2 separate regions of the Homo sapiens genome follow, and region 1 is reported to be linked to region 2. The links are microRNA targets in miRTarBase. Many come from high-throughput screens and were not tested one by one. Region 2 holds a microRNA gene; the other region holds the end of a gene's coding sequence.
Evidence for each region. The annotated mature microRNA hsa-miR-4260 reads CUUGGGGCAUGGAGUCCCA and lies in region 2 at 1,030-1,048, opposite strand. An mRNA with a match to its seed (bases 2 to 7 or 8) in the 3' UTR can be bound and repressed. Matches are read on the target gene's strand: a 7mer-m8 pairs with bases 2 to 8, a 7mer-A1 pairs with bases 2 to 7 and ends in A, and an 8mer does both.

Region 1: the mRNA of MSI1 is a reported target of hsa-miR-4260. The part of its 3' UTR that is shown has no 7-base or 8-base seed match.

Annotation. Positions count from the first base shown.
Region 1 is chr12:120,342,868-120,345,938 of GRCh38, forward strand. MSI1 (musashi RNA binding protein 1) reads right to left here. Exons shown (of 15, transcript NM_002442.4): 14 at 2,703-2,765; 15 at 1-238. The coding sequence ends at 2,724. Among named protein-coding and RNA genes, the nearest start is that of PLA2G1B, 17 kb to the left of the region's middle.
Region 2 is chr1:209,622,453-209,625,452 of GRCh38, forward strand. MIR4260 (microRNA 4260) reads right to left here and starts at 1,058; the gene lies at 992-1,058. It overlaps LAMB3 (laminin subunit beta 3), which reads right to left. Exons shown (of 23, transcript NM_000228.3): 15 at 1,388-1,548; 16 at 1,053-1,273; 17 at 530-727; 18 at 84-228.

The sequences.
Region 1 (3,071 bases), not on the chromosome of region 2:
AAATAAAAGCAGGGCCGGGAGAGGGGCGGGTGGGGATGGGGGCAAGGGCGAAGAGGGGGACGTTAGTAGGGGAGCCAGACGCTGTTGGGGGCAGCAGGGCAGGGGCCGGGCCCGGGGAGTTGGGGGCAGGCAGTAGCGGGTCCGAGTCGCTGCAGGGGAGGGGGCGGCGGCTGCGGCTGAGGTCTCCCGCCCCCTCGCTGGCTCACTCGTGGTCCTCAGTCAGCTGCAGGCTGGGGCGCTGGGAACACAGCCAGGAGGTTATGGGGGCTCCCGGAGCACACGCAGCCCTCCCCAGTTCTCTCCCAGAAGAGCTTTGTTCGTAAACTACCTACTTTCTTCTTCTTATTTTTTTAGAGACAGAGTCCAGCTCTGTTGCCCAGGCTGGAGTGCAGTGACAGCGATCATAGTTCACTGCAGCCTCAACCTCCCTAGGCTCAAGTGATCCTCCTGCCTCAGCCTCCTGAGACTCTGGGATTACAGGTAGTATCTGGGACTACAGGTGAAAGCAAACACACTCTGCTCATTTTTGTTGTTGTAGCAGAGATGGGGATTCACTATATTGCCCAGGCTAGTCTCAAACTCTTGTCCTCAAGCCATCCTCCTGCCTTGGCCTCCCAAAGATCTGGGATTACGAATGTGAGCCACCACACCCAGCCAGACTTTGCACTTTCTGTTCCCTGGTTGGATGCCTCTTTCCCCAGATTTCGAATGGCTGGATTTATTTAAATGTCCCCTTCTCAGAGATACCTTCTCTAAACCCCACATCTAAAATAGCCCTGTCATGCACAGTCTGGAATTATCTCATATGTTCACTTGATTTTTGTCCTGTGAAATGAGAGAGGACTTTGTCTGTCTTGTTCATCCTCTTTCCTGGAATGGGGCTCATAAATGAATGGGTGAATGAACAGAATGTCATGGGCTCACAGTCTCCCACCATCTGGATAGACACTGTGATGGCCGTGTACACAGTCCCACAAGTCGAGGTATCCTGTTGTTTTTTGTTTGTTGAGGTGGAGTCTTGCTCTGTTGCCCAGGCTGGAGTGCAGTGGCCTGATCTCGGCTCACTGCAGCCTTCGCTTTCTGGGTTCAAGCGATTCTTGTCCCTCAGCCTCCCGAGTAGCTGAGATTACAAGTGCGCACCATCACGCCAGCCAAGTTTTGTATTTTTAGTAGAGATGGGGTTTTACCATGTTGTCCAGGCTGGTCTAGAACTCCTGACCTCAGGTGATCCGCCTGCCTTGGCCCCGCAAAGTGCTGGGATTATAGGCGTGAGCCACTGCGCCCGGCCAAGGTATCCTGTTTTGATAGCTGTGTACTATACCACTGTACACACACTAATTTGTTTAACCACTTTCCTTTTGATGGATATTTCAGTTATTTGCAGTTTTAAAAATAAATGCCTAGAAGTGGAATTGTTGGGTCCAAGGGCATGAATGTTTGAAACTGGGACAAACACTGCCAGACTGCCCCGGGAACCCCTGAGCCACTGTACTTACTTGCTTCTCCCATATCTTGATCAATGCTGGGCAGTGTTCAACTTAAAAAATCTTTGTGGCTGGGCCCGGTGGCTCATGCCTGAAATCCCAGCACTTTGGGAGGCCAAGGCAGAGGAAGATCGTTTGAGCCAGGAGTTCAAGACCAACCTGGGCCACATAATGAGACCCCATCTCTACAAAAAAATTTTTTAAAAACTTAGCCAGGCATGGTGGCATGCTCTTGTGGTCCCCGCTACTTGGGAGGCTGAGGTGGAGGATGGCTTGAGCCTAGGAGTTCCAGGCTGCAGCGAGCTGTGATTGCACACTGCACTCCAGCCTGGGTGGCAGTGAGACCACATCTCTATTAAAAATAATAATAATAGGGCTGGGCACGGTGGCTCACCCCTGTAATCCCAGCACTTTGGGAGGCCGAGGCAGATGGATCACTTGAGGCCAGGAGTTTGAGACCAGCCTGGCCAACATGGCAAAACTCGTCTCTGCTAAAAACAAAAAAAATACCAAAATTAGCTGGGTGCGGTAGCACATGCCTGTAATCCCAGCTACTCGGGAGGCTGAGACACGAGAATTGCTTGAACCCAGGGGACGAGTTTGCAGTGAGCCAAGATTGCGCCACTGCACTCCAGCCTGGGTGACAGAGCGAGACTCCATCTACAAAAATAAAATAAAATAATAGTAATAATAATAAACGATCTTAAAAAATCTTTGTGGCCTGCGCTGGTGGCTCACACCTGTAATCCCAGCACTTTGGGGGACCAGGGCAGGAGGATCCCTTGAGCCCAGGAGTTTGAGACCAGCCTGGGCAACACAGTGAAACCCTGTCTCTACAAAAAAAGTAAAAAAATTAGCCAGGCATGGTGGCAGGTGCTTGCAGTCCCAGCTACTCGGGAGGAGTCTGAGGTGGGAGGATCCCTTGAGCCCAGGAGGTGTGGGTGACAGAACGATATCTTGTCTCAAAAATAATAATAATAATAATCTTTGCCAACCTGATAGGTGGGATGTGAAGCCTTACTGTTGCTTTGATTTCTGTGTTTAAATGGAGTAGGGTGAGCAGCTTTTCATCTTTATTGACCACAGCTGGTATAAAGATCTGTCTCCCCTGGGACTGTGGTTCTTGAGGGCAGGGATGGGGTCTGTGTCCCAGATTCGATGGCCCAGGACAGGCTTCCCCAGTGCCACCCCACCACCTGCCCACCCCCACATCCTCACCTCCTGCCACCGTCCCCTGCTTCAGTGGTACCCATTGGTGAAGGCTGTGGCAATCAAAGGGCCCTGAAAAGGAAAGAATTTGACTCCTAGATTCCTGGGAAATAGAGGAAGATCAGGGGCTCCTTCTCTCTCTGCAGGACATCTGAAGTGAGGCGCTGACCTCTCTCTACCTGTCCGGATCGCCCCCCTACTGCAGGTCTGCCTACCCGGATCACCCCCCACTGCAGGTCTGCTCAAAGATTCTCCAACAGAGGGCCAGGGAATCTGCACAAACCGTACCCTGGATAAAACCAGGGCACCCCTGGAATCAAACCTCCATGTGAGCAGAGATGCCATGTGTCTCATTTGCACCTAGAGCCCACTATGCCT
Region 2 (3,000 bases):
GGGCTGGCTGATGCACTGAACATGGGAATGCGGGACAGGCAGGACTGGAACAGCAGCCAAGGTGGGGTGGAGACTGGGCTCACCTGTTAGGAAGTCCCGGACCTGCTGGATTAGGAGCCGTGTGCGTCTGACATCTTCCTCCATCTGGGAGCGGCTGGCGCTCACCTGGGTCTCCAAGCGCTGGGCACTGGATTGAATCTGTGAGGCAGATTCCTCGGCTGCCCTAATCTGTTGACATACACTCTAGGTCAGAAGGGGTAAGGCCCCAAGGGAACCTCTCAGCAGCCCCACGATTCTGCGGATCATCCTCTATGCCAAGACCTACCTAGGAAGCATTTGTAACCAACCCAGCTTACATGTGGATGTTCAGTAAAAGAGAAAAAAAACTATCTTGCACTTGCTGTGGCACCTTAAGCAGGTCACCTAAAATCTCTGGACTTTAGTGTAAAATGGGAACTCTGACTTGCCCGGGGGATCTATCCTGTCTGCCTCCTCCTACCTGTGCCCACCCCGCCTCGGCTGCACTTACCATCTGCCTGGTCCGCTGGAGCTGGGCATTGAAGCCCCGCAGCTGCTCAGCCACCTGCCCCGCCATCAAGAAGGCCCCACCGGCCCTGGGAAGGACACCCCTGCAGCGGGAGCCACAGGCTGTGCCATTGTCTTGGGGACATAGCTCACCAGGGCATGATATTGGGGTGCAAGCCATCTGCCTGGAGTTGCCACAGAGCTGTGGACAGATGGCGGTGTTAAAGAGGCTACCCAAAGCCCCTCAATAACCAATCCCACCCCACACCTGGGAAACCAACAGCCAGACATCTCCATGACAACCAAGCACCAGAAACAGCCAGACATCTCCATGAGAGCTAAGGACCAGAAACTGGTTTCCTTGGCAACCACTGAGCTCACAGTGAGCAGTACAAGGGTCGGGATGGCTGGGGGAGTGGGGTTCTCACAGGGGCAGATCTGCCCTAATAGGAAGCAGGTGGCAGCAGTTGGTGTGTGACAAGCTGGGGTGTGGGCTCCAGGAAGTGGGACTCCATGCCCCAAGTCACCTTGTTGAAGGTGGGTGTCAGGTCAGGCAACGAAGACATCTCCAGCCTCAGGGCCACAAGCTTGGGGCTGCCGGTGCCTCCTCCTCCTCCCGCCTGCCGCACCAGCCTCTCTGCCTCTCTCCGGCTGTCCCTGAGCTGGTCCAAAAGGCGCGAGCTGTCGGAGACCTGCTGAGCAGCCTGGGCTGACTGCTCGTAGGCTGTGCTCAGCATCCGGAAGGCTCCTGTGGCGAGAAGCATGAGGAATGGAGATGGAGGAGGAGCAGGAGGGAGAGGGGGTGGCATGCCCACCACGGCAGTGCCCATGCCCGGGGTTATCCGGGTGCCCCTCTCCTCACCTGAAGGATCAGCACTGCTTATTTTTTCAAACTGCTCCCTCTTCCTCTGATACATAGTAAGGAGACCATTGAAGCTTCTGTCAAGACTCTCCAGGTCTCTCGGAAGGGACAACGTCTCCTCCTCCAGGGGCAGATCCAGCTGCAGGCCCTGGAGAGTTCGCCTGAGAAGGGAGAGGAGCTTACACTAAAATATAGGAGGGAGTTTTGCCTCCCCAAAGCAGCTATCCCCTCAGAGCAACTGCTACTGAGTCAGAACAAACAGAGACCTTGGGCAAAGGCAACAGAACAGAGAATCCACAGGCTAAGGGGGTTCCGCTGGACAGAGGCTTGGCGACCAGCACAATCTTTCTCTGTCCAGGTGCAGATGGAGCCACAAAACTCTCCTCCCTTGACTTCTATGACCCAACATTCCCAATTCTCCTCCCCCTCTTCCAGATCCTGGCTTCCATGAGGAGCAATGCCCTGATGCCCTCCTCCTTCGCTCTCTATGGGCTGGCTTCAGCTACCATCTGTACAGCTGCAGCTCCAAAATCTCTTCCACAGTCCACACCTCCCACTCAGCTCCAGATCCCATCACTGCTGCCAGCTGGTCATCCCCCCGAAGGAGGCTCAGAGTCTACCTCCCAGGCCCTTGGCCACTGAGCTCTTGGAGAGTCCTCTCTCCCTGTGCCCTTTGCAGCTCCACCAACCCAACCACCAGCTCCCTCCTCCAAGCCTCACATTCTCCACCTCCAGGCTTTGATCAGGCACAGAACGCCCTTCCATGGAATGCCCCTCCATGCCTGTGTTTCCAACCTACTGAATCTGGTGGACTGACTGCCCGAATCTGAGACTTAGGTCAGAAGGCACCTCTGTGAAGCCTGCCATGACACATTATAACATGCGTCACATTATAGTTTACCATTTACACATCATTCTCCCCAGTGCGAGCTTCTTGAGCGCAAAGATTATGTCATACTAATTTCAATATCCCCAATGCCTGTACAATGCTTGTTTCATCATAGATGCTCTAAAATTATGTAAAGAGAAAGAAAGAGAGAGAGGAAGGAAGGAAGGAAGGAAGGAAGGAAGGAAGGAAGGAAGGAAGGAAGGAAGGAAAAAAAGGGAAGGAAGGAAGGAAGGAAAAAAGAAGGAAAAGAAGGAAGGAAGGAAGGTAGGTTGGTTTTCAATATTCGCTTGAGTTCCTCTCCCGGAGCCCCCAGCCAGAAGCTCTAGCACATCGTGAGTCACGGAGCCTCCATTTTCATTCTTCTCAGGCTGCCTTTTCCTTCCCCACCACTCACACACCTGGATGGCTCTGTGCACAGTCAGAAAGCCAGTGCTCAGGGAATGCAAACTAATTATAGAAGCTTCCAGAACTGAACCTCACTAAGAAGGCACCTCTGCTGGTGGGATGGGGGTGTGGGCGGGACCAACTTCCATTCCAAAGCCACACGTGAGTTATTTTTAGAGCCCCTGCCTCTCGGATGCCCTCCGCCAGGGTGACTAATCCAGAGCTGACTCTCTCCCACAGGCAGCACTGGGCACTTAAAAGAACGCTGGGCTTGGGCTCCTGGACTGTGTTCTGAGGCCCAGCTCTGCCCTTCGGTGGTCATGTGGCTCTGTCACATCAC